Linked DNA regions of Homo sapiens. The protein of the gene in region 3 purifies or fractionates together with the protein of the main gene of each other region. This does not show direct contact. Each region holds a gene or a part of one and is shown on either strand. Other genes may lie near its edges.

Region 1 (4,902 bases), on a different chromosome or scaffold from region 3:
TTTTTCTTTTTTTTCTGAGATGGAGTCTTGCACTGTCACCTAGGCTAGGGTGCAGTGGCACAATCTTGGCTTACTGCAACCTCCGCCTCCCAGGTTCAAGCAATTCTCCTGCCTCAGCCTCCTGAGTAGCTGGGATTACAGGCACGCATCACCACAGCTGGCTAATTTTTTGTATTTTTAGTAGAGACAGGGTTTCACCATGTTGGCCAGGCTGGTCTCAAACTCCATGATCTGCCTGCCTCAGCCTCACAAAGTGTTGGGATTACAGGTGTGAGCCACCACGCCCGGCCCATGAATAAGTACTTACTAAGTCTCTGTGATTTGGGGGTCATTACAACAGACTGCCTGCTCAAACACAGTGACAGAAAAAGAGGCACCAGTTTCTGTATCTACAGGGAGCAGTTAAGTTTATGCGCAGGGAGCAGTTAAGTTTATGCGCAGGCAATGGGAATGATACTGTAATCTTGAGAATAAATGCAATCAATGAAAAGATCACCTTATGTAGCCCAAGGAGTTTAGTCTCCTTTGCTCAGACAGACAGATCTTTATTAGTGTTTTCAACTTATTTTGCTCACAACTTCCCAGCAAGAAATGTCTTACATTGCAACCAGTTCTCACATTTAGATGTATGGGTGAAAAGTTTCACAAAACAGTATTTGCCTTTACTACATGATGCATTCTGGCCTACTTTATTCTGCTTCATTGCTGTGTAATGCTGGTGACCACTTGCTAATTGATTTCCCATTTTACTAAATGGGCTGGGACCCACGGTCTGAAAACCCTGCCTTAGGCTGCAAGCATTTCTGTGATCTCTGCGAGCTACTCCATATAGGTAAACACACGCGAGGTAAACTAGGAAACAGCTTCTGCTTTTGCAGATTAGAAGTGAAGTTGACATCACGCCAAGTACGAAAAGGCTAAACAGCTGACAAAATTTCCACTTGAGCAACCCTGGGGAGCGCAAACAGGAGGAATCGGGGCAAGGGTGACTTGAAGAAAGCACTGGCAGATCACGCACTTTAAGGCAACTCTACACTGCACAATGTCAAATAACCTAGCATGGGGCGGCACTAAATGGCTGCAGGAAAGCCGAGTCTTCTTCCACATCCGGCGGCTCCCCTCGGATGCGAGCGCTGGCCCAGGGTGTGTTTACAGAGGTGAGGGCTTCCCGTGGACCCTTCTCGTTGGGAGCGCTTAGCCTCAGGAGCGGATTCAGGGCACAGGCAGAGGACGTCCACAAACACCACAGGAAGCCGCCACCCAGGGGCGTGGAAAGGCCCAATGCCTCGTCTGGGATTCACGGCCGGCAAAGCGGCCCCTCCGGAACGGGACAGCACAGCGGCTCACCTCTGCGCCTCTGGGGGTGCGGGGGGAGCCTCGCCCTCCACGCTCTCTGGGGGACCGCCCGCCCTAGCCCCCGCCTGGGCTTCGCGGGTGGACGGTTGGGGGCCCCGGGCGCCCCCCAGCGCGTAGCTTTTCTCCTTCTCGTGGGTCTTCTGGTGCTCGGCTAGGGCCAGGCTGAAGTGGAAGGTCTTCCAGCAGCCCTGACAGGCGTAGCGCTTCCGGCCGCCATGGCTGCTGTGGTGCTCCATCAGGTGCGAGAGCCACGCGAAGGCCTCCCCGCACTCGCCGCAGGCATAGGGCTTCCCGCGGGACAAGCCCGGCTCGTCAGCCCCAGGGCCCTGCCCGGCCTCCAGCCCTGCGCTGTCGCCGGAGCTAGAGACGCCCTCGAGGCTCTGCCCGTCCCCATCCTCGGGGTGCGGCCTCTTGGTTCCCAGTTTCGCCGTGCCCCTGTCCGGGGCAGGCTGCTGGATGACGGACTGCCTCTGCGATCCGGTGGCAGAGTCGGACTCCGCGTCCTGGGGGTCCTGCGGGTCCGGGGCCTTCCCAGGCTGCTCTTCCTCCTCCTCAGTGGTGCCCGACGGGGGATCGGCAAGGGCGTCCCCAGGGGGCGCCTCCGTAGGCAGCTCAGGCAGCACCCCCGCGGGGGCGGCCTCCTCGCAGGCGCACCCAGCGCTCTCCTGCCGCCTCCCGCCTTCTGGAACAAGGTCAGAGCCCTAGCGTGAGCGCCCCGCCCAGGGCCAGGGAGAGGAGGACCCAGCCGAGCCTCAGCTGCCGGAACAGCGCACAGGGCTCCGGGCTCTGGATCCCCGCGGGGCTCACGGCTGTTTGGAAGCAGCGCTGTCCCTCCCAGGCAGCCCTGCAGCGCATGCCCCGCGCCTGCTGCTGCAGATGTGGGACCTGGAGGCCTCCAACAACGGAGGCCACCGACAGGACAGGAAGGACAGCCCCACTGAGCCCGGGTTCTGGAAACCGCGCCTTTGGAGGTCTCCACCTGGCCACTAGCTTGGCCACAAGATGCACGATGCAAGGAGAGCCTGCTCAGAGCGCACCCTCCTGGAGGGAGGGGCCCGGCTGCCAGCGAAGAGAGTGGGGTCAATAGCTAAGGCCAAACCCCCCAGCGACAAGCCCCCTGGCGACAGGCACCCAGGGCCCTCCAGCCCAAGTCCGCCTCTAGGTGTTCTTGTTGGTGTGCTGGCACAGAGCCTCCAATGGGGCAGAACGGCCACCCCCGGGACCAGTCATACACAGATCCTGGCAACTAACACCACTGCCGTTTCCACCGACCAAGTCTTGGGGTGGTCTGTCATGCAGCAAGAGACCATGGACGTAACTGGATTCCTGCCTCACTCAGACACGGTGGTGGGAGAATGGTGAAGCAGTCAATGCTGAGGTCTTTGCTGGGGCTGATGGCGCTGGGAGGGGCCCCCTCAGCCTCTGAAGAAAAAGCAAACCCCACCCGGCCCTAACACCAATTCAACCCAACCTCACCTGGGAGGCTGCTTCCTTGTGGATCTCTTTCCACCAACCGGAGTTCCTCAGTGTCCAGCCTGGAGGCAGCGTCAGGCTGGGAAAGCTGATACCCTGAGTGGGGTTAAAAACCAAAGAAATAAAAGGCATCAACACAGAGTGGCTGATGGGTGTTGTGTGTCGTGGGCCAGCCAGGGCAGGCTGCAGCCCACCTCCTCTTCTCTGTACTGGGACCCCCACCAAGGCCACCTCCCTGTTAGGCCCCTGGACAGTGGAGCAAAGAAGAAGGCGAGGCTGGAAGGGCAACGGGGCAGGCGGAGGCAGGACTCAGAGAAAGCAAAGCTAAAGAAAGACATTGACAAAAATTGCTCAGGAGTCTGAGTCGGGGGGCCTCCCTAAAAGGAGGGTTTCTGGGGCAAGAACGTCTACAAAAGAGGAGACCCTTGATCAGGCCATGCAGGTGAGGCCCTGTATCTGGCAAGGAGGGTGGCAATGTGGGCGCCTTGGGGCCAGGAGGCCTTTCCAAATTCCGAGGCTTCAGTCCTACAGGCAGGGCCTGGGCAGAACTCAGATGTTTAGATCAGAAAGGGTGGGGGCTTCAGCGAATAAATTCAAGCTCCAACACGTGCAAGTTCAAATCCTGTAAGACATCACAGTGTCCCAGCCAAAGTCCCTGGGGTCACAGTCTCCTGCACCAACCCCTGCGGAAGGGGATGGGGAGTGGGGCGTGACCCCGAGGCAGGCGACTCTCACCCCACAGGAGCAGCTTCCGGTAGCTCTTCAGGTTCTCCTCGGCAGGGTCCAGGTGGCCCCACTCCCCCAGGTGCTGAGGGTCCTCTGGAAAGGACTTCAGCTTCTGAAACATTAGTCGTGGCTGAGACCTCCCACCTGCCCTAGAGAAGGGAGGACCCGCCGCAGCCCCACAGCCACAGGAGCAGGCTAGGAGCCAGCCCTGGCCAGGGACTCTAACCCAGGTGCACTGCAGGAGGCAGCCCCCTTCGCACCACAAAGATTCCGCCCTCACGCTCCCACCAGGGTGGGTTCTGGGCCTCAGCGCTGTGGACGTTTGGGGCCACAGCCCTCTGCTGAGCACTGGTGATGGGGAGGGGGATGCCTCTAAGCTGAGGCCAAGGCCCCTCACCCACCTGCTCGTGCCCACCCACCTGCTCGGTGTTGGCAGGGCCGTCCTCTTCGGTCTTTGCTTCTCTGACCCTCCTCTGTTCCAGAAACAGGGGGTCCGGAGAAAGCCAGGCTGGGGAGAAGGAGAGGCAGAGCTGAGGCAATGAGCTCCCTGTGGCCAGGTGCCCTCAAGGGTCAAGGAGCCCCCGCTGCCTCCCACACAGGCCCCAGTGTGCTTCTGTGACAGCAGCACCCAAGGCTCAACGGACACTACACCTTTCCCTGATTTACAAAGCAGCGCGGTGGCCACAGGGCTTGGGTGGCCCCAGAGATGCCCATTCAAGTCCACTGGATTCATGGAAATCTTTTTTTTTTTTGGTTTGTTTGTTTTTTAAAGACAGGGTCTTGCTCTGTCACCTAGGCTGGAGTGCAGTGGCATGATCTTGGCTCACTGCAACCTCCACCTCCTGGACTCAAGCAATCCTCCCACCTCAGCCTCCCAAGTAGCTGGGACTAAAAGTGCGGACCCGGCTAATTTTTGTATTTTTTGTAGAGATGGGGTCTCCCTATGTTGCCCAGGCTGGTCTCGAATGCCCGGGCTCAAGTGATCTGCCCGCCTTGGCTTCCCAAAGTGCTGCGATTACAGGCATGAGGCACTGTGCCTGGCCTTCGTGGAAATCCTAAAAAGCAACACCACATAGTGCTGGGCTGTATCCAGGCCAGTGGGCACCTTCCGTGCTGGTAATGAACAGCCACAAAACTTCTGGAAAACCACATGGAAGTTTCTATTTTATGTGAAATGTCGAACTCACACACCACTTGCCCAGTGGTCCTGAGGAGTCCACCCACAGTGCCCAGAGCCTCACATATGGGCACACAAGTCAGGAGGTGTCAGGGCAGCTTCACTCCAAGGGGCAGAGAGCCCACCTCTAGGATGGGGATGGGCTGAGCACGCGATGCTGGGCAACTAAA
Region 2 (7,799 bases), on a different chromosome or scaffold from region 3:
GCCTTACTCCTCACCCACCATCAGAGAATCCATAGTCACTCCAAAAGCCATCAATGTAACGAGTGTGGAAAAGCTTTCAGTTTGACCTCAGACCTTATTCGACACCACAGAATTCATACTGGAGAAAAACCTTTCAAGTGTAACATATGCCAGAAAGCCTTCCGACTAAACTCACACCTTGCTCAGCATGTAAGAATCCACAATGAAGAAAAACCCTATCAGTGTAGTGAATGTGGAGAAGCCTTCAGGCAAAGGTCAGGTCTTTTTCAACATCAGAGATATCACCACAAAGACAAACTGGCTTGATGAGGTGTTCTCTCCTTGTAGAACATCAGAGAAGGCACATTGACTAGCAAACAGCACTTTAGGAAAAGTCACCGTAGCCCACTGTGGCATCAGAAAATTCTTGGGGGCTGAGTTGGAGGCTCCCTGCCTCTATTCTCTCTCCTTTGCTTTCCTTGAAGTCAGCTTTGGACCACAATAATTTCACTGTAGATGATATGCTAGGATCAAAGTTAAACAGCATTCTTCACTGCAGGACATCTCAGAGCATGTAACATAACTGCATGATTATATACTCTAAGCAATAGAGAGCTTCATGACTGAGTAAGAGTTTTGAAGTCAGCAGTGAATCAAGTGCCCACAGATTTGCAGGCTTAAGCAGAACAAGGGAAGATTGATATTTTTGGATATGCTATAGCAGCTTTCTCCTATGAAATAAAACTGATGATGTTTGGAAGTATACTACTCTCAAAGGTGTCTTTAAAGTACAGGTTAATGGTGAACATTTTCCCCCAGTGGCTTCACCTCATTCCTCCCACTGGCCTTACCCCTTCCTTCCCCAGTGGAAGCATTTTCAAAAGCAAAGATAATTTTCGCTGGTGAACTTCAGAACTTGCCTTCAGGGTTAGCTTCATGTAATTTTACCATTTCCCATCCCCATTCCCCACCACATTATGTCAAGATTCAAGTTATAAATTAACGTTTTACTTAGACTTTGAAAGAGATTTCATGAGTAATTTGAATGAACCTTGCTGAATTAATCTGAATAGCAACTGTCTGACTTGATAACTCCAGTGCCAGTATAGTGGCTGCTGCATAGACACTATTCAGTAAATGTCTGATGAAAGAAATTGGACTTTTTCCCTTTAATACTGATGATGCAATTTTGAAATGTTGCTTGTTCTGGAATACTTCGGAAGTTAAACAATAAAGTCAGCTTGGAGAGGAGATCATGATCTTTATACTGTGAATAGCAGAATGTCACAGATGAAGAATATTAAAATTAGGGGCGTCCACTCCAAAACATATCACCAGAGTGACAACTTCAGCCCTCAGCCTCTGCAATCCATATATATCCTGGTCTTGGGAGTCCATAGAATACTGTTTCCTTCTAATAAAGGTTTCAAACAAATCCCTGCAGATTTATTTAAAGTGTTTGTGGAAGATAATTTTCCATATAAGCTGTGCAGTATTCTATGGTATATGTCCCCATTGTTCATCATTTACGTCATTTACAGTTTGATCACCATAAACAATTTTTCAGTGAACATCCTTGTATATACAACTTTGCCTACTTACAGAATTTTTTTCTTTGTTCAGTTCCCATAATGAGAATCAATGAGGCAGAAGGTAGGCATATTTTCTAAGGCTTTTGATGCATTTTCCAGAATGCCCTCCAGAAAAGTTACACTAATTTGTACACCCTGTTAGCAGCCTATGATAATGCCCAATTTTCTATACCCACGTAAACTGGGAATTATTCTTTTGAATATTTGACAATCTGATGTGTACAAAATGGTTTGCTTTTTTTAATAAACCATTTTTTAGAGCAGTTTTAAGTTCTCAGCAAAATTGAGAGGAAGATACAAAGATTTCTCATATACCCACTGCTCCCATTCATGTATAGCCTCCCCTATTATCAACATCCCCTCCCAGGGTGACATTTGTTACAATTGATGAACCTACATTGACATATTATCACCCAAAGACCATAGTTTACATTAGGGTTCACTCTTGGTATTGTTCATTTTATGGGTCTGGACAAATACATAATATCGTGTCCACCATTATAGTTTCACTGCCCTAAAAATCCTCTGTGCCTTACCTATTATTCATCCCTCCCTTTTTCCAGCCCCTAGCAACCACTGACCTTTCTACAGTCTTTATAGTTTTGCCTTTTCCAGGATGTCATGTATACAGGTTGAGTACAGCTAATCTGAAAACCCAAAATCCAAAATGCATTAAAATGTGAAACTTCAGCACCAACATGATGCTACAAGTGAAAAATTTCATACCTGACCTCGTGACAGGTCATAGACAAAATCCAGTCAATACTTTGTTTCGGCTGGGTGCAGTGGCTCAAGCCTGTAATCCCAGCACTTTGGGAGGCCAAGGTGGGTGGATCACCTGAGGTCAGGCGTTTGAGACCAGCCTGGCCAACATGGCGAAACCCCGTCTTTGCTAAAAATATAAAAATTAGCCGGGTGTGGTAGCATGCACCTGTAGTTCCAGCTACTTGGGAGGCTGAGGCACGAGAATCGCTTGAACCCAGGAGGCGGAGGTTGTGGTGAGCCAACATTGTGCCACTGCACTCCAGTCTGGGCAACAGAGCAAGACTCAATCTCAAAAAAAAAGACTATGTTTCATGCACGAAAGTATTTAAACTGTATAAAATTAGCTCTATGTGAGTAAGGTATATATGAAACAAATGAATTTCATGTTTAGACTTGGGCCTCATCCCTAAGATATTTCATAATGTATGTATATATTCCAAAATCCGAAATTGGAAACACTTCTGGCCCCAAGCATTTCAGATAAGGGATACTCAACTTGTAGTTGAAATCATACAGTATGTAGCTTTTCAGACAGGATTCTTTCACTTTGTAATATGCTTTTAAATTTTCTCAATATCTTTTCATGCCTTGATAGCTCATTTCTTTTTTTTTTCTTTTTTTTTTTTGACATAAGGTCTCACTCTGTTGGCCAGGCTGGAGTGCTGTGGTACGATCTTGGCTCACTACAACCTTTGCTTCCTGGGTTTAAGCAATTCTCCAGCCTCAGCCTTCTGAGTAGCTGGGACCACAGGCGCACACCACCACGGCCGGCTAATTTTTTGTATTTTTAGTAGAGATGGGGTTTCACTGTGTTGCCCAGGCTAGTCTCCAGCTCCTGAGCTCAAAGTGATCCACCTGCCTCAGCCTCCCAAAGTGCTGGGATCACAGGCTTGAGCCACCGTGTCTGGCCAGCTTATTTCTTTTTAGCACTGAATAATATTCCATTGTCTGCATATACCACAGCAAAAGAAATATCTGTTAAAGGACTGTTATCCAAAATACAGAAAGAACTCTTAAAACTCAGAAATAAGGAAACAACCCGATTCAAACATGAGCCAAAGACCTTGACAGACACCTCATTAAAGAAGATATACAGATGGAAAATAAGCATATGAAAAGATGCTCCACACCATATCCCATCAGGGAAATTGCAAATTAAAACAACTGTGAGATGCCACTACACATCTATTAGAATGACCAAAATCCAGAACACTGACACATCAAATTCTGGTATGGATGTGGAACAACAGGAGCTCTCATTCATTGCTGGTGGGAATGCAAAATGATACAGCCACTTTGGATGACAGTTAGGTAGTTTCGTACAAAATTAAACATACTCTTACCATGTGATACAGCAATCGCCCTCCTTAGTGTTTACCCAAAGGAGCTGAAAACCAGTGTCTACACAGAAGTTTGCACACAGATGTTTATAGCGGCTTTATTCATAATTGCCAAAACTCAGTAGGTAAATGAATAAATAATGGGTCTGTTTTTTAAAGAGTTTTTTATATTTTTACTATTGAACATCTTTTCACATGTTAATTTGTCACTTATCTTGTGTGTAGTAATGTTCATATCCTTTACTAATTTTTCTACTAAAGTCTCCTTTTACTCTTAAACAGAAGTGCCCTTAAAAATCAAATAGGGAACTTGCATATCAGCATTTTAAATGCACGTGTCCTTTGGCTGAACAGTTCTAATATGTGGCATTTATCCTAGAAATATATTCTTAAAAGAATGTAAAGGTATTGAATGGTGTTCCCTCTAGCATTGCTTTTAAAGAAAAAATATAACCTAAGTATGCATCAATAGGATAGTTAAGTAAATTATGGAACACTCATACAGTATTACTTAGCTGTTAAAGAATAAGCTGATCTGTGAAGATCTCCAAGTTGTCTTAACCGAAAAGAGCTAAGGTGCAAAATTACATTATGATACCATAAGTGTTTTAAAATGTATAAATACTTATTCACTAAACAAAATGTTCATTAAGTGCTACTGTGTGGCAGGTAGTGTCCTAGATAAATATGAACAAAATACAATGGTTAACTCTAAAGAGGGGACACTTTTCGTTTTATGGTCCTTTTGCAACTTGACTTTTTTATTGTACATATATTATGTATACTTAAAGAAAATAATTTGTACAGCTTACTATAATGGTCTTTTTATTGATCTGTCTCTCCTACCAGCCAGTGATGACCCCGAAGACAGACATTTACCACTGTGTTGGTTTTCAATCGAAATGATGTACATAAATTTGGGGCGTGCTTGCACCGTCCGAATGGGCCTGGGGTCCGGCGGCGGAGAGTGACCTGGGCGGGGCAGGAGGTGGCAGCGGGGGTCCTCCCGGCTCACCAGAGAGACGAGCGGCCGTGCTCCTAGAGAGGCAGGGAACCCGCCAGACTCCGCCACTCCGCTGCGGGCGCGGCGCAGGGAGAAGCTTTTGTACCCGCCCAGCTGCTGGAGGCGCCGGCAGCGCCCGCCAGACCCGCCAGCCCAGCGGCCCGGGCTCTGGGGAAACCGGCGCTCCCGACAGGGGAGCACCGGGCCTCTGAGCTCCCTCGGGAGCCTTTCACGAGGTCAGCTACGTCTTTGTTGTGCGCGTTCCTGAACTTTTGGTCCATTAACCAACAATTAGACACGCCGGTATTCAGTGCCTGGCGCGGTGCTAGATGCTGGGTGTAATCTCAGAAAAATACATTCAGGGGCGCGCCTGAGGGTGCTGGCTGCTGGCATCTCAGGTGCTTTACGTGCATTCGTGAAGAAGCCCATCAGTATTTCTTGAATACCAGGTACGTGCCGGGCATGTAGAGTCTATGCAGAGATAAACTCCTGTCCTCAAGAACCCGGGTGGGGATGGGGTTGGTGATCTGTAATACGAGATGGAGATGAGGGTTGGGTGCAGTTTTCTATGGGAATACCCCATCTCAACCTGTGTGGCTTACTTTTCCTGTCTATATGTTAGGGTTAGGGGTTGCCAGGGAAGGTTTTACAATAGAACATTTACGCTGGGCCTTGGGAATTTACCCTTAGAAGGGCGGTCCTGACTGTATAGAGTGGGTGGAAAAAAATTGAGTACTTAGCATGGCAGTGACATAAGAAATTTGGGAAGACCATGGCTTTCTTGAAAGCAGGAACCAAGTCTTTTATTCCAGAGTTAACTTTATGCCTGGAAAATAATGAGATGCTCCACAAATGTTGATTGAGTGACAAACAAATCAGCAAAACCCAGTAAAGATTAGATCCTGGGGAGTTTGAATTTACTTCAACGAGTTTAATGAAAACTTTGTGTGTGTTTATGTGTGTGTGAGGTATGTTGAATATGGTCACAACTGTGCTTTAGGGAATATTAATCCAGTGACCATAGAAGCGGGGAGTTGGGCAGGAATACCGTAACAGAACATTATTGTAACAGTGAATGAAAATAATAGTAAAATTATAAGAAGGAAAGAATGGCTGCAAGAGGCGTTTTTAAGAATTGACTCACTGATTGTGTATAGAGGCTGTTTAAAAGACTGAATGCGTGGAAGATGATGGTGATGCCAGTAGAAATGGAGAAATACCGAGTGAACGCAGCTTTGAGGGACTCTGATTTCAGTTTGAGATCTGTTGAAATTATAGTGCAGTAGAGGCCCACAGCTGCTGGCATTTCAAGATGTGGGTTTGGAGTGCAAAAAGCAAGCTGGTGCCAAAGATTTGAGTCTTCTTGGAACAGAGATATATTGAAAGTGTGACTAAGGAGATCACAAAGGAAAAAATGAAAAGAGGGAATAAAAGAACTTGATGCATGTCTACTGTTTTTCAGTTATGTATTGTTGCATCAAAAATAAAACTCTAAACTTAGTGGCTGAAAACAAGCTCAGCTTATTGTTCCTCAGGATTATGCGGGTTGACTAGGCGGTTCTACTGGTCTCACCTGGAGTTACTAATAGAGCTGCATTCAGGTGGTGAATTATTTGAGCACTAGGCCTGGCTGGGCTTTAACTTGGGCATTTTGGTTCTCATCCACATGACCTCTGTATAGCTAGCTTGGGCTTCCTTACAGCATGGCAGTCTTATGGCAGTGAGCCAAGAGCTACAGCAGCACTCTCTCTTACAATGTCATTTCTGCTGTATTCCACTGGTCAAAGCAAGTCATAGGCCAGAACAGATTCAAGGGAAGGAAAAAGAGACTCCACCCCTTGAATGACAACAGTGGCAAAATCTCATCACAAAAGGTATTTGAGAATGGGAGACTTTGGAAACATTCTGTTACACCTACATTTAAAGTGGAATATTCAATGAGAGTTACACAGATATAGAAGACCTTTGAGACTGTATTATTTGTCCATGAAGGCAGCCATCTGCCTCCTCAATGGGTAAATTATCCCCTCTCCCCAGCTGAAGTGCAAGCTACTCGAGCTTTCTTATTGCTAACACTTCTTCCCTCATGTCCTACATCCCTTACCTTTGGACTCAGGCCCTTTAGTACTAGTTCAAAATATACTTCTGATTCATTTCACTGATAATAGAAGCAAGCAGGCTCAGCTTTTGAGCATTACCTACAGTGGGGACAAAAATGTAAGTAGGTTACATACAGTTTTGAAGCTCTTATAATTTGCATGTTGCTGATAAATTCTTATGCCTCAGATCTCTATTTCTGAATATAGACCCCAAGCTAAGTGAAGCTTTAGCCTCTAAGCTCAACATGTATGAAGCTTTGCCAGGCCCTGCTCCTGAAAATGAAGATGGCCTTGTGAAAGTGAAGGAGGAAGATCCCACCTGGGAGCAGGTGTGCAACTCACAGGAGGGCAGCTCCCACACTCAGGAGATTTGCCGCCTGCGCTTTCGGCACTTCTGCTACCAGGAGGCTCACGGACCCCAGGAAGCTCTGGCCCAACTCCGAGAACTTTGTCATCAATGGCTGAGACCGGAGATGCACACCAAGGAACAGATAATGGAACTGCTGGTGCTGGAGCAGTTCCTGACCATCCTGCCCAAGGAGCTCCAGCCCTGTGTGAAGACATATCCTCTGGAGAGTGGAGAGGAGGCAGTGACAGTGCTGGAGAATCTAGAGACAGGAAGTGGAGACACAGGACAACAGGTGGGAAGAGAATGTGTGTGGTGATGTGGGAGAAGAAAAGGGGGACATGTATCGGTTTATTTTTAACGTTTTATTTTGAAATAACTCCTAATTTATAGAAGTATTAGAAGAATAGAGAACTCCCGTAAAACTCTTCATCCAAATTTGCCAGTTGTTAACATTTGTTTGATGAAGTCCCATTGTTGTGTACACACTCGTACAAGGAAGTGCATTCCCCCCCCCCAAGATGCATATGTATATGTATACACACACATACATACACATATGCAGTATTTTTTTTTCCTGAATCTATTTGAGAGTCAGTTGCAAACACTATATCCCTTTACCTCACTGTTGACCAGGCTGGAGTGCAGTGGTACGATCATAGCATCATTGCAGCC
Region 3 (7,699 bases):
TCCTCAAGGAGGTGAAGCTGTCCTGATGGACACTCCTTAAATATGATTAAAGAAACAAGTGGAAAGAAGACAAAAGACAAATGCTTCTTAGAACAAAACAACTAAGATTAGAAACATAAGACTGTATAGGAACTACTGACCTTAGTCTTAACAGAAACCATGCTTTTATTTATTTATTTATTTTTGAGATGGAGTCTTGCTCTGTTGCCCAGGCTGGAGTGCAATGGTGTGATCTCGGCTCACTGCAACCTCTGCCTCCTGGGTTCAAGTGATTCTCATGCTTCAGCGTCCTAAGTAGCTGGGACTACAGGTACCCGCCACCACGCCTGGCTAATTTTTGTATTTTCAGTAGAGACAGGGTTTCACCACGTTGGCCAGGCTAGTCTCGAACTCCTGACCTCAGGTGATCCACCCGCCTTGGCCTCCTGAGGTGCTGGGATTACAGGCTTGAGCCACCACGCCAGGCCCAGAAACCATGCTTTTGAAGAATACTTCTTTAAGAGAACCAAACAGCTAAGACTCATTAATTCATATGCATAAGTGATTCACAATTCATTCTGAAAACCATGCCCACAAGGCTACTGAATATTACAATAAGAGATCAGCCAGGATTGCATAGAAGCTCCCAGATAATGGAAATAAGGGAAGCCTGAGAAATGCTCTAACTCTGGAGCCAGTTCAAAGAGCCAATCGGTATTTAGTGTGCTGCAAAGAGCTCAAAGAAATAGTCTCATGAGGGAAGCACTTTTGTGTGACTTTTTTCAGCTTTTACTGTTAAAACATTACTTCGACATTAAAGGAACCATTAAAAAAAAAATAAACCAATCAGCTGGGCACTGTGCTTATGCCTGAAATCCCAGCACTTTGGGAAGCCGAGGTGGGAGATGGGAGGATCACCTGAGCCCAGGAGTTTGGGACCAGCCTGTGCAACATAATGGGACCCCATCTCTACCCCACCAAAAAAAAAAAAAAAAGAAAAAACAACAAAAAAGGCAATCACGTTCCTTCATCTGAATGTATTTCTATTTTTTTCCATATCCATATTACTTACTTAACTATTTTAAAATACTTAGGTTGTTTCTAATTTCACTATTATAATTAATGCTGGGAGGCACATCTTTATGAATATACTGTTTTTCTCCTTTCAAAGTATTTCTTTCAAGCATGTCCCAAGGCCTCTGCTTGTTGAGGATCAAAGGAGAAGAGCAAATTCTGTCTTGCTATGTATTATCAAAATATTGCACAAAGACTGTATCAATTCACAATACCATCACAATCATAGTGACTTGTGAGGGCAACGATTTCTTCAAGTATTATTAGCTCGTTAGCAACAAAGTTGGGGGGGGACGGCACTTTCCTTTGTATCATTTTACTGTTAAGTATCACCAGTAACTAATCTCATTTTGTTGTTGTTGTTGTTTTGTTTTGTTTGAGACAGAGTCTGGCCCTGTTGCCCAGGCTGGAGTACAATGGCGGGATCTTGGCTCACTGCAACCTCTGCCTTCTGGGTTCAAGCGATTCTCCTGCCTCAGCCTCCCAAGTAGCTGGGATTGCAGACGTGTACCACCACGCCCGGCTAATTTTTATAATTTTAGTAGAGACGGGGTTTCACCATGTTGGCCAGGCTGGTCTCGAACTCCTGACCTCAGGTGATCCCTCTGCCTCGGCCTCCCAAAATGCTGGGAGTACAGGCGTGAGGCTCTGCACCCGGTCTAATCATATTTTTTAAATTGGGCAGGAGGTATATGATAGTGTTTGTACAACTTCAGCAAATGATGACTACTTTAAAAATCTTACGTGCGCCTCCGTCTTCCATCGTTATGTATCCTGCCATTTGACTTATTTTCTCACTTCACCAAGTATTGTTCTAGGCCCTGTATAAAGCCTGTGAGTTCATAAAGTTGTTACCAAATAAATGATACAACTTTACACAATGATGTGCTATGAAACAAACAATAGCAGACACACATATTAACAGAATTTACTATGTGCCAAGCACTGTTTTGAACACCTTAGTAAAAATAAACAAAGGTTAAATCCTCATAAAAGCCCTAGATTATTTTTACCCCCATGTTGTAGACGGGGAAGCAGTCACAGCAAAGCCAGGTACTCTGGCCAAGGGCAAAGCTGGGGTCTGAACCCAGGCCGTCCACATTTATCCATGGTGCTGTGTGGTTAGAGGCCATAGGCAGCAGGGGCCCTTGTGGTGACCCCTGCGCGTTGTCTCAGCGCAGAGGAGGAAGTGGCGGCAGGCAGCCGCGCTCCCAGATGAAGCGGGGCCAGAAGAGTCTGGGGAACAAGACCTGAGAGGTGGGAAGGGTTGAGGCCACCGGTTTGGAGCCGTCAGGTACCCTAAGGGATATATGAGGGACCCCGGGGCTAAAGCAGCCTCTGGAAGAGAGTGGCCGCCCTGTCACTTCAGCACCAGGCGCAGAATCTGTGCTAAACCTGAGGTGAGGGTAAGGAACCCCCGACACCGCACGACAACCAGAAAGAACGTCCCTGGAGGGGAGGCTTCGATCAAAGCCTGGGACGCAGGGGTCTTTCTGCAGGGGACGCCGCTCTCGGCTCTACCCTGCTGTGGTGGGCCGGCTCTGGGAGGGCTGGCTTCCGACCATCTCCCGACCTCCCGCGCCCACCGCGCCGCGCCGCGCGCCTCCCAGGCTGGGAACCGCCGGGGCGAAGCGGCAGGTGGCGCGGGTTCACCTGGCAGGGCAGGCGCCCGGGGTCCGCCGGGGAAGGACGAGGGGAAGGGGTGCGCGGACTCAGGGGCAGGCAGCGGAGGGGAGGGGCCTGGGGATCTGGGACGGTGTAAGGGTGCTGCACTTGCGCGCGAAGGGAGGGGTGGCGACGAGTCCGCGGCCGCCTCTCCGCGTCCCCCTTCCACCACCCGGGGACCACCGCCTCTGACCGCAGCCTGGGGGCCCTAAAGAGGCCTCGGGTCTCACCTCCCGACGCCGTCGGGGAGAAACCGGGGAACTGCCAGCTGCGCAACAACTTCCGGTTCTGGTGGCGGGTCGGGGCGGGGCCCGGAACGCGGGGACGTTGCCATGGAGAAGAGCCGCTGTGGCCGCGCACTTGGGACAGGGAAAGAGAACCGGGAGGCTCGACCGGTGGGAATCCAGCTGCTCTGCTCAGTGTTCCGTTCAATAAACTAGCATTGTTGCTTCGCAAAGTGCTTTTGCTTACATTATTCATTTACTCCGGTAACTCAGTAAGGTTATTCCCATTTTACAGAAAATAAACTCAAATGTCCTGTGACTTGCCAAGGATTACAGAGAGGGGCGAATGCTGTGCTGTCTACCGCTGAGTACAATCCCTAATACCATTCCCACTCCCGAAGTGGTTACACCCCAAGTACTGACGTTTTAAGGGACAAGTTTGACATCCGCAACCCCATGCTTTCACAGGAGAACACAATGGCCCTTGAAAAAGTGAGAACTGACCCACATAAAATTTGTTACAATACATACACATATCTCTCCTCAGATAATCTTAATCTCAATTGAAAAATAAGTTTGAGGCCGGGCGCGGTGGCTCATGCCTGTAATCCCAGCACTTTGGGAGGTCGAGATGGGCAGATCACATGAGCCAAGGAGTTCGAGACCAGCCTGGCCAACATGGCTAAACCGCATCTCTACAAAACATACAGAAATTAGCCGAGTGTAGAGACGCATGCCTGTAGTCCCCGCTTCTTGGGAGGCTGAGGGGTGAGGATCACCTCAATCTGGGGAGGTGGAGACTGCAGTTAGCCATGATTGCGCCACTGCCCTCCAGCCTGGGCTGCAAAGTGAGAGCGTCTCAAAAAATAAATAAATAAATAAATTTAAGCCTAAATGCACCACAGCCCCACCTCGTGACTTCCTTCTCTAGCCCCTTTCCCTAGGGACTCCTGGAAAATGTACTTGTACTCGTAACTGAGGAATTAGGGAGAGGACGGAGATGCTTGAAAAGCACTTGCTAATTAATAAAGAACAATAACAAAAAATCCCTTTTGGTATGACGCCGCCCCAAAAGTATGTTAGTACTGGAATCTGAAGTGAAGAAAGAAGAGGCTGGTTTACTCAGTTTATGACGCTAGGGGACTAGGGAGAGGTTTGGATCCCAATTAGAGTACAGTAAAACTAAATCTGAAGAAATTCTTGCTTCAAACAAGGGGCTTTCACAGGATAAGACTTTTTGCTGATGCAGCTGCCAACACAAATAGCAAACAGCCCAAAAGTGCAGGTGGGAATGTGTTTCTGGCGCTGGTGGGTAGGGTAGGTTAAATGACTCACGTCAGGGGAGAATTTGAAACGAGGGCAAGGCTTGGCAGTGGTGTGAAGTCACAGGAGACAATTTAAGGAGAATATGAACGACAGTCAGAAGCTTCAAGGAGAAGGAGGAACTGTGGGATGTGGCAAGAGGTCAGGGATGATGAATTCATGGGTATGGTCCACCAAACAGCCAGATATCAGAGGCCAAAGTTAAAAACAGCAACAACAAAAAAGGGAGCAGACATAAAAGATTGATTAGAAAAGTTTCACAGTCAGGTAGTTAGAGCAAGAACAGGTTTTTGTTTGCTGTTTTAATTTTTTAAAAATTTTGGGGGTAAAGTGAAAAGAAATTAGCAGGAATAAGGTCCCAGTAGGGTGAGCACCTACTATATACCAGTTGTATCGTAAACACCGGGAATTCAATGGTAAAATATAGATTCTTGCCCTTTAGGGGCTAATAGACTAAGTAAAGAGAAAGATGAATAAATTGACTTTTCTAAACAATGTGGCAACATTCTGATGGAGACAACTGCAGGATACTATAAAAGCACAAAGAAAGGGAGGTCCTGGGTAGAGACTGGGATTGGAGTTGATGGAGAAAGCTGGTGTTGATACATTTGAGACTGAGGTACCAGTGTGGGATGTTGTTTAGATTTGCTGGATTAAAGGACAGCAGGATGAGTGGCTGAGGATGAGGCTGAAGAGGCAAACAGCAGCCTAGTTTTAAAGGGTTTGACAGGCCAAGTAAAGGGCTATGAACTAAGGTTTTAAGCAGAAACTTGAATTAGTGGCATGTGCACATCTGCAATTCAGGTAGGGCTCTCTGATAGCAACACGAAGGATAGATCTGAAGGGAGGCAAAACTCAAGACAGGGTTACCAGCTCTGAAGCTGTTGCAAAGATCCAGGCTGCAGCTGGTGAAGGTCTGAACTAGCACAGAGGGGACGAGAATGGAGGCAGATTCTGGAAACACTTGGGAGGCTGGTGCTTGCTTAGATGGAAGACTGACAGATGATTGGGTACATAATGTGTCATTCAGGGAAGTTAAACAACAGAGTATGTTTGACAATGGCTTATGTGGATATTTGAGGGGATTTTTGGGTAGACTGGATCAGAAGCTGAATGGGATGCTATCATCAATAACTGCACATAATTGGACATTTTGTGTGATCATGTGAAAATAAATATCAAACATGTTTTATATCTGAATGCTTCCCTTATATAGGTATGTAAAGATCTCTATGACTTTTATGAACCATTTCTAAGGCAATCACTCTACAATGACATTATAGAGACATTTATTTCTCAACTTTGTACTCTTCACCACTCCCTTCATCCCAACATATTTGCTCTCCACCTAGGTAGAAGCTTTTAGGGGCATGGATCTGTGTCTGTCTAAACACATAACCCTTGTTTTTTTTGACCCGAGGTGCATGAAGTGGATGTATTATACACAGCTGCCATGTTTCTATAGGATAAGGAATTAGAAGGTTAAGAAATTTAGGTTGGCTCAAGCATGGTGGCTCATGCCTGTAATCCTAGCACTTTGGGAGATCGAGGTAGGAGGATTGCCTGAGCCCAGTAGTTCGAGACTAGCCTGGACAACATGGCAAAACCCCATCTCCACAAAAAAATACCAAAAATTAGCTGGGCATAGTGGCATGCACCTTTGGTCTCAGCTTCTTGGGAGGCTGAGATGGGAGAATCACTTGAGCCCAGGAAGTCAAGGCTGCAGTGAGCCATGATCATTCCACTGCACTCCAACTCGGGCAACAGAATGAGACCCTGTCTCAAAAAAAAAGAAACTTAGGTTTATAAACACTGCATGTTCTCACTTATAAGTGAGAGCTAAACATTGAGTACACATGGACACAAAGAGGGGAATAATAGACATTAGGGCCTACTTGAGTGGGGGGTCGGGGTTCAAAAACTACCCACTATGCCTATTACCTGGGTGATGAGATAATATGTACACCAAACCCCCATTCAGTTAATCTGTATAACAAGCCTCCACATGTACCCCAAAACTGAAATAAAAAATTAACAAAAATAAAAACTTTAAAATTAAAAAAAAAAGAAATTTAGATTGAGCAATAAAAAGCAATTTGCCTACAATGGAACTATGGTTTCCAAGCAAGTGGTGGATGGGTTGTATGTGTAGGAGTCCAAGTGTGGGTACACACTTGTCAACCTGAAATAATAAAAGGGTCAGAATCCAGTTTTAAAGAGTTTATTCAAACAAAAAGCTGGGAATAGCCATTCCAGGACACACAGACTCCAGAGAAATGGGATCAGTGCTCCAAAGTTAAAAGTTAAATCTTGCTAATATAGGAAGAAGACAAAGAAATTTATCAGGATTGCAACATTTTCTATACAAGGCTGGCTTAATAGTTTCAACAAATTAATTAGTTAGTTTGTTTTCTTTTCCATATAGCTTGTTTTCTTTATAGTTGGTTTTCATTTGGTTTCCAATTTAAAAGAGTGTATTTAACATTCTATCTTAAGTCAATGTGATAGTCAAGAAGTCTGTGTGTGAGAAAGGTAAGAGAAAGGTGAATCTATAATAAAGGCCAACAGTGGAGAGGGAAGGGGTCTTCCTCTTCCCTTTGGCCATATATAACATTTTACAAAACAATGCAGGTAAGGGAAAAGGCTTCATCTGTAATCAGAGAAACAGAAGGTTATAGCTCCCTAGTTTATAGGTGCCTACCATGTGACTCAGGATCAGTAATAACATTCTTCCAAGTCCTAAAATAATTTAGAGTTCTAGCAGCTTAGATTTCGAATGACTCTTTTTCACACAGTGAACAGATATGAGAGTTTGTGTGAGGGAACTAGGGGAGCTCTCTCTCCCTTAGTGGAAGACGTGAATAAAGTATCAAGTTGGGAAAACAATTAAGGAAGTGTATTAGTCTGTTTTCACGCCGCTGATAAAGACATACCTGAGACTGGCAATTTACAAAAGAAAGAGGTTTAGTTGGACTTACAGTTCCACATGGCTGGGGAGGCCTCACAATCGTGGCAGAAGGCAAAGAGGAGCAAGTCATATCTTACGTGGATGGCAGCAGGCAAGAGAAAAGAGAGCTTGTGCAGAGTAACTCCTGTTTTTAAAACCATCAGATCTAATGAGACCCATTCACTATCATGAGAACAGCATGGGGAAAGACCCGCCCCCATGCTTCAGTCATCTCCCACCGGGTCCCTCCCACAACACATGGGGATTATGGGAGCTACAAAATGAGATTTGGGTGGGGACACAAAGCCAAACCATATCAGGAAGTATCCCAAACTGAGTTCATCTTCTCTCTCCATCACCCTCAATAGGCCAAATTCCTTGCTTTGATAGTGAAACTGCTGTTAGCTCTATGTTCCAGGCAGTAAGTCTTAGGAGTCATCTTACACATTTTTCTTTCCCTTGTTTATGAAATCCAATGTGGTCTCAA
Region 4 (7,885 bases), on a different chromosome or scaffold from region 3:
CTGGAGGGTGGCTTGGTGTATCACTGAGAATTATAAGAATTTTAAAAGACAATTTTTTTCTCTTGCAATGTTTTATTTTTTTTTAATCTACAAAAAAATCACCCGAAAGATCAGAAAATATCTGCCCTGTCATCTAGTCTCTCTTGCTAGACCTGTAGTAGGCACCAAGGCTAGTCTTTACAATTCATTTTAAAGCTTATAGATTGGCAGAATGATAATCACAGGCTTTAGCTTTAAAATTCCACTGGCATTTGCACCCAGCATCACCATCAGTTGATCCTTTGTAGCCTTAAACCCCACAGTGTGTTTCTAGAGTACTTCCAGTCCTGCTTACTCCATTCTGGATCAATGCATCCAAATTCTCCACATATCCCCTTGAGGGCATCTGCTTCCAATAGAGACTGGTTTCATAAAAAGTAAAAATCTGAGCCAGGGGATGGCCTTCCTTATCAATCTAATTTCTTAATGAGGGGAAAATGTCTTTGCAGCTTCTTCATCTGCACTTACAGCCTCGTCTGCACAGACAGTTTAACACTGTGGAAAGTACAGTAGTTCTTGAAGATACTAAACCAGCCACTACTTCCACTAAATGAAGGCACTTCTGCGGGACTTCCATCTTTTTTTCTTAATGTCTCCATACATTGTGAAGGTATTTTCTTTAACTCTGAGAAAGACTGCATTGGATTGCTTCCTTGTTTGGTATTCAATCCACACACTTAACAAATGCTCCATTTCCTCCATTTCCTTATTCCTTGTTCCAACAGATTTCATAACACTGGCAGTTGTTCCAGCTAGATAATTTTATTTTTCCCATCATTGTCTCTAATTGTACATACATTTACTCCTTTATGCCAGTTGCATGACCAATCTCACAGTTTCTTTTCTTTCAAAACACTGTATAGTTTCAAACTTGTCTTCAATTGTTAAAGCTTTTCTTCTTTTATACTCACTAGCAGAAATTTTATCACAAGCACACTTCTATGGCACTTGCAAAACCCTCTGCTTGCTCCTTTTCTGGAATACAAAAAACTTTAGCAAAAAATACACAAAGATGGGAGGGAACAATGTAAATAAGTGCTTCCAAGACAGCCAGAGGAAGGATGTGGGGGCAAATGGGAATTATGTACAGTACTGTATGTATTCAGGACTTGCTGTGCTCAGCTACATCAGATACTCTGAATTCAGCTACTCCCACCTGGTGGCCCCAAACATCAACTTGCTGGGAAAACTCATACATGAGCTTACACAATTTCAGCATTATACTGACTCATTTCTGGCATACTGACCTCATTTTAAAAGATTTTGCATTCCAGAAACATGCGTTTTTAACAGATCAGACTGTATACATAAAGGGTTCACATTCTGAAAGAGTTCAGATAAATGTATGAATAGTATCACTAAAAAATATAAGAATGTCTGGCAATATCCACAATGTTCTAAAATTACTGTCAAAGAAGGCAAATATACTCCTTTAGAAACAACTCCACTGTAATGGCAAAAAGCTTTTAAAATTCTTCTAAAAATAATTTTGAGCTCAAAACATTTTACATACCAACTCTAGATACTGAAAAGAACCAAGGAAATCATGCAATTAGTATTTTCATTGTACAGATGAAGACATTAATGTCCCAGAGAAGGTGTAATATGCCCAAGGTTACACAGCTAATTAGTAACAGAGCCTAGATAGCTTCAAAAGACAGTAATTTTTTAAAAAAAATTTACTATTGTATATTTCTTTAATCTCATAGTCACTACATAAAATATATTTTCTACTGGTAAAAAATAGATCAAGCTTTTCCATTTGGTTAAATCATTTAATTATTTGTATCATACACAAAAACTGTTATCTCATATGCACGCATCTATTCATCTACACCAGTGATCAAATAAGAAATAATGCCCCAAACCAGGGTTTCCAACCACCAGCGCGAAATTACTCCCATTACTCCATTCTGGATCCATGCACCCAAATTCTCCACAGAAGATGGCACCTCCAATTTCTCACCTGCTGTCTAGGTTCATCAAGCTCCCTCTCCAAATCTTCCAGCAAAGTCACCACCTCTTCTCCACTCTCAGGATTATGCTCCCGCACCCAAGACTGGAGCTCCTCAGGCAGGATGGTCAGGAACTGCTCCAGCACCAACAATTCCAGGATCTGCTCCTTGGTATGTATCTCTGGGTTCAGCCACTGACGGCAAAGTTCCCGCAGTTGACTCAGAGCCTCCCTGGGCCCAGGTGTCTCCTGATAGCAGAACTGCCTGAAGCGCTGACGAGAGAGTTCCCTGGTATAAGACAAATTCCTACGTAGGGCTGATTCCTGATCCCAAGTGTGGTCTTCTTCTTTAACCTTTACTTTGATAATCTCCCCTTGTTCTTCTGGAGCCTGGCCAGCCAAGGCTGGGAAGACCCTAGAGACTGCTTCCATCCCGAGCTTAGACAGCTCAGGCAAAGGTTCTCTCCAGTTGGGGTCTAGGCAAATGGGTGATTTTACTTGAGCTCCTTTTTTGTTCTTGGTCAGGAAAGTTTTTGATATAAGAAAACACTCAACACAGGACAACTACAGACTCAGTTTAAAAGGACTTGTTTACGTGACAACACAGGGCAGTTACTCGGGCAATTCCATTGAAAGTGAAGCCATCCTCTGAAAAGACCAGAAATAGTGAGCACAGAGCGACTCACTAAAGCTTCAGGGTCACAAATTGAGCGGCAAGATACTTGCGAGACAGAAAACCGAGGTTATGACGGATACTTTGGCCCTAAATAAAGCCTGGGTGTATGAGCCTAGGCAAGGAAACGAAGATCGGAGCAGCCTGGGCGAGGGCGGAGAGGGAGAGGGGCTCACAAGCTGCCTGGGGAAGAGGCCCGATTGTCGCCGCGCACATGCACCCTTCCCTCGGCCGCAGCTCCCACCTCTGAGGAGCTCAGACCCTGTGGAACCCAGACTAGTGGGTCGAGGGAAACACTCTACAGCTCAGGTGGAGGTTCCGCAGACACACCCGCAGCTGTGCCCGTAGGTTCCGGCCGGGCCCGGTGAGCCACGCTCACTTCCGGTCCGCTCTAGGATTCCAGGTGGTGCCGTCTTCTCACTGGTTGTGCAAACACCTACGGTACCAGTAATTCTGGGGAGGCAAGTACTCTGGAAACGACGGAGAATTAACTCCGGAATTACCTAGTTATCTGGCATCACGGTGAAAAGAGTTCCACAGTGTGAGTAGTGCTGGAGTAGATGCTGCTGGTCTGTGTTTTCCTGTCACCGTGATAAACCATCGCTGGCACTCAGACCCGTGGTGCTCACCGCAGCGACCTGAAACAAAATGGAGAGGAGCATCCCTAAGGACTACCACGTCAGCGAATCTGTAGGATCGTCCCCCGCCTTTCCTCGTTAATTTCGGGCCACTTTCACCTTTCCCTTTCACCCTAAATCAGACTTAAAAAGAAATGTAAGAGTTAGTCCATTGTTTCCATTTTACGGATTAGAAAACCAAGACCACCGAGAATGAGCCTCAGTTGTTTAGTCACGGAGCACAGAGCCGTGACTAAACAACTGTGGGAAACTGGTCCCAGAAATCTAACAAAATCTGGACGGCTGATCAGCGCCTAGCGAATCACTGGAGTGGAGTAACCAGAACATTCTTTTCAAGCAGTCACTGGGTTCCTCCATACCTCTGGTAGCGCAGAGATGCCCAAGGAATATTTGTTGAATTGCTGCCTGGTTCCCTTCTCCATTCTCTGTTTCCTTCTGCTGTGGTCCTCATGTTGATTTCTCACATTTTGGCATTTCTGAGTAGAGAGTCTTTGAATAATCAGAACATCTCTTTTAGAAATCTCTAAATAAAAAAGAAATCTTACGCTTAGAGTCCGTGAATGGTCTTGAGTAAAATTCTGTATAAAATTTTTGTCTGTGTGCCTGTGTCATCCAACCCTGAAAAGATCATTTTCCCAGTCACTTTTAACGTGCTGAACTTATCTTTTGTTTCCCCCCCTAACTATCCTTTGCAATCAGGGATTCTACTACCTTTTTCTCATTCTGCAAGGCAGTGATCTCTGCCATGCTGAGCACAGTAGGCAGTTAACATGGAGTAAGCATGACTTCTAAGTCCTTTACTGACGAGCCTTACTGTTTTGTTTGTTTTGTTTTGTAGATTTGCATTTGTTAATTACTACAACAGTGATAGACACTTATAAAAAAAGTCAAATATTTAAAAAGTCAACGTGGCAAGAAGTGAAGTTTCTTCATCCTCAGTTCCATTCCTCAGAAAAATTGATGCCGAGTTTGTTGTATGTACCTCCAACCTATTTTTAAAATGTACATACAAAATTGAGTACAATATTATTATGTACAAATATAACTGAGTCACAATTATAACTCATTATAATTTGCAAAACTTAAATCATACTAGACTACAATTCACCAAGTTACTGGGCTTTTTTGGTTTGTTTTAAACTTAAATCCTCCCCCAGAAACTGCCAAGCCAACATGTGTTACATGTCTATCCCATTCTTTTTAGTGGCTGTAGAAGAGACTATTTTGATAGATATTGCTAAAAGATCTGCACCCCAGAGGGATGTTTATCGTGAGTCTCGCTAAAGTGTGTTAAGATCCTTTCCTTGCGCTGTGCTTTCCAAGGCCTTGGGAAGAGGTTGCTCTGTATGAAACATATTTTGTAAGATTTGCAAAAGTATGCTAGTATAGTGAAAATTAGTTAAGACAGCTTCCTCTCCCTACTCCAGCTTATCCTCAGATACATCATACAGGCCTTAGAGTACCCATAATTTTATGTTGATAACAGCTGTTCTTTTTCTTAAAGAGGACTTTCTAAATTGTTAAGTTTCAGACCTCACAAATCTGCCCCGGTTGATTTCTGGAAGCTAATTTATGCTCCCAACAAAAGCGCAGGAAAGAGTGAAGAGATCTCCCTGAATTTTATTTTGACAGTTACTCCTTCTTCAGCAGCAAAGCGTCAGCTTTCCTGTCAGCGTGAGTCTCACTGAAGCCTGACCTAACTCTTTCGGATCGGAACTAGAAAGTTTATTATCAAGGAGGTATTTAACCACGACTATACTTACCTACTGTACCCTTGTGGTTGGTCCCATGGTGTAATGGTTAGCACTCTGGACTTTGAATCCAGCAATCCGAGTTCGAATCTCGGTGGGACCTTTCAAAGGTGAACGTTTTACAGTTCCTGGCTTGGCCTCTGAATGTGGGAAAAATTCGTTCCTCCGCTTCCCATCGAATTCTCGTCGAAAACAACTTTGTGGTCGCGTGCACGGTATTGAACTCTCCCCTTCTATCCAAGCATGAAAGTACCAAGCTCTTTCGCCTAGAAGAACGCTTTCAAAGCGTATCAAATTCACGGGTTTGGAGACAAAGAGAAAGATGCTGCTCTTATCGACTTACGAAAAGCTCCAGCAGCAACGTGGAAACCCAATTCCTGTGATGGAGACAAACGCTTCCTCAAAATTTCCTAGGTTCGAAGCCCTCCTCGCTGCCACAACCAAGTCCTGCGTGTAAAGTGGCTGAGCCTTGGTCTCGGGCGTGTTTCTTTTGTTTGTTTTTTTGTTTGTTTTTTTTTTTTTTTTTCGCTGTGGACCTTGCGCCCCGGGTTACTTCTCGCCCCTTTTCCCTATCCCCCATCTTGATGAGACAATTCACCCTCATCTGCTTTCTCTAGTCCCCTGTACTTCTTAGTCTCTCCGCTCACCCCGACTGCAACGTCTGGAAATCCCTCCAAAGCCAGCAGCCCCGGAGGGCTCGGGTCCCTGGTATCCACGGCGTCGAGTCTTCCAGCCGGAGAGAAAAACTCACCTAGGACCGGACCTGGGCCTCGCCGCGCTGGGAGCTGGCATTCCCAATTCAGGACCAGACACGGTGGAGGGGCCCTACAACTTGTGTGGGAGACAAGGGAGATGGGGGTAAAAAGACCTCTGCCTTCAGCCGTTCGCCTGGCATCTCGCCTCTTCAGCTCCTAGTACCAGGGTGAAAGGAGGGGGCTCCCTGACCGAGTCCTCCCCAGACACTACCAAACACTCGGTCCGAAGCATCCGGGAAACAGTCCCTTGGAGCTGAAGGTCAAGAACAGAAAATGTAGCCGCTATCTTGCCTCCCCTGAACTGTGTGTGTAGACGAGGATTGAATTGGAGATAGAGTTGATGAAACCCGGAAGGTCTGGAAAATTCCTTATAGACACTAATTTAGCTGTTAGAATGAGGTGGGAAATGTGAGGTGTCAAGGTGAGGGAAAGGTGTGCCCTAGAGGACAGAGAGGACAAGAACTAAATTAGAAACAAGTATTTGTGTTTCGTACAAATTAATCTCTTCTATGATGTAAGAGACAACCTTTAAATCCAATTATTTATTTTCAGATTTCTTACTTTGACATTTTGATTTTCGCATACATACCAAAAAACCAAATCGAATCCTACTTTCACCAAGTCCATTAAACCATTAATAATTCATTAGCTCATATTTTGAATTACCATTGGTTACACAGAGACTCTGTAACTAAGTTTACAAAATTCATGAAAGCATTATTTTGGCTCCCGTTATGTGTGCTTGATTGTACTTCATATGGTCTGTAATGGTGCTAATTGCAGAGGGAAATAACATTTTCTTGTGGTGTTGCCTTAGCTAGTGTGGCCCCACCTTCTTTCCACTTTGTTGATGTTAGCGTGATGAGATCTCACCCAAAGTGTTCTCCCTTTTCCTAATGGCCTAACAGCCTCTTCTGCCTGTTTGGGATGCTTATAAGTCCAGCCATCCTTCCGACCAACACCATAGCCTGCCTGTGTTACTGTAAGTAATCATTATGATCACATCCATCGTCAAGCATCCACTTATCCTAGCTCAAACCAGTAACTCAGACTTTATCCCAAGCCTCTAAATTAAGGTAATGGACAAGACCTGATTGGAGATGGTGCCTGCACAACGTGACCCAGAACTGAACAGAAGGCCAAGGAGCAGCTGCTATGAGGAGGCGGAAGCAGCCACCAACACTGGGAGAGGCTGGGAGCATATGTAGATGCTCCCCCTGATGCCTTACATGTTCTGTGGGTCTACCAATTCCTTTAGGAAGCTGAGGAAATTCCCGTGGGTATTTATAAAAACTCCACCCTTGAACAAACTTTAGTTAGGTTCCTCTGAGCCCTCCTCTCAACTAGGTCCCATCCTTGGCTTGTCCAGCCCAATTTCAGCAAATAATCCAGTTGAGCCTAGTTTTAGCAAGAATCTTGCTAAGCCAATTCAGTAAGAATTCCTCACCTCAAAATCCTATCAAGTTTCTCTTTTTCCACCCTTGATATCTAATCAAGTTCCTCGTAGTCACTTTCTATCAAATGGTTGTCTTACCCTTACTATTAGCTATAGATCCCCAGCTGTCCCTGATGTATTTGGATCTGAGTTTATTTAATTTCTCTCCCCTATTGCAATTGTCTGGAATAAAGTCTTCCTTGCCTATTTAACTCCATCTGGTACATTTTTTCTTTGACAGTTTCATCAAAGATGTATAGGCATATCCTGGGAAAACTTCTTTTCCAAAGAAGATATCCAGCTAAGGATTGAGAATATGATCAGCTGCCGAGAGAAGATGTGTTCAGAATAGAGGACCAAGCAAATTAATGGTAGCTGATTTCCTGAGGAAATTAAAACAGACTTTAAAATCTGTCCATATCAAAAAATGTGTTACACCACATTAACAAAAATGAAGGATAAAAACCATGTGATTATATCCATAGATACGGAAAAAGTATTTGACAAAATTCAACACCCTTTCATCATAAAAACTCTCAAAAGATTAGTTTTATAGAGCCAGAGCAATTAGATAAGAGAAAGACATAAAAGTCATCCTAATAGGAAAGGAATTGAAATTAACTCCATTTGCTGATGACAT

Evidence for each region.
Region 1: the proteins of ZNF396 (region 3) and ZSCAN18 purify together in Homo sapiens (affinity purification with mass spectrometry; 4 studies listed by BioGRID and IntAct, with this or other methods). This does not show direct contact.
Region 2: the proteins of ZNF396 (region 3) and PGBD1 purify together in Homo sapiens (affinity purification with mass spectrometry; 4 studies listed by BioGRID and IntAct, with this or other methods). This does not show direct contact.
Region 4: the proteins of ZNF396 (region 3) and SCAND3 purify together in Homo sapiens (affinity purification with mass spectrometry; 3 studies listed by BioGRID and IntAct, with this or other methods). This does not show direct contact.

Annotation. Positions count from the first base shown.
Region 1 is NC_000019.10:58,083,342-58,088,243, forward strand, and holds the end of ZSCAN18 (zinc finger and SCAN domain-containing protein 18), read right to left. Parts: intron 4,064-4,902; coding exon 3,975-4,063; intron 3,668-3,974; coding exon 3,565-3,667; intron 2,926-3,564; coding exon 2,833-2,925; intron 2,039-2,832; coding exon 1,344-2,038; 3' UTR 515-1,343; downstream 1-514. UniProt on the Homo sapiens protein: May be involved in transcriptional regulation.
Region 2 is NC_000006.12:28,276,791-28,284,589, forward strand, and holds the start of PGBD1 (piggyBac transposable element-derived protein 1), read left to right. Parts: upstream 1-4,781; 5' UTR 4,782-5,128; intron 5,129-6,965; exon of another isoform or gene 6,966-6,985; 5' UTR 6,986-7,023; coding exon 7,024-7,419; intron 7,420-7,799. Other genes in the region: ZSCAN26 (zinc finger and SCAN domain-containing protein 26), read left to right, coding at 1-306.
Region 3 is NC_000018.10:35,374,330-35,382,028, forward strand, and holds the start of ZNF396 (zinc finger protein 396), read right to left. Parts: upstream 3,009-7,699; 5' UTR 2,949-3,008; intron 2,623-2,948; exon of another isoform or gene 1,798-2,622; intron 36-1,797; 5' UTR 1-35. UniProt on the Homo sapiens protein: Isoform 1 and isoform 2 act as DNA-dependent transcriptional repressors.
Region 4 is NC_000006.12:28,584,293-28,592,177, forward strand, and holds the start of SCAND3 (SCAN domain-containing protein 3), read right to left. Parts: upstream 3,007-7,885; 5' UTR 2,426-3,006; coding exon 2,006-2,425; intron 1-2,005.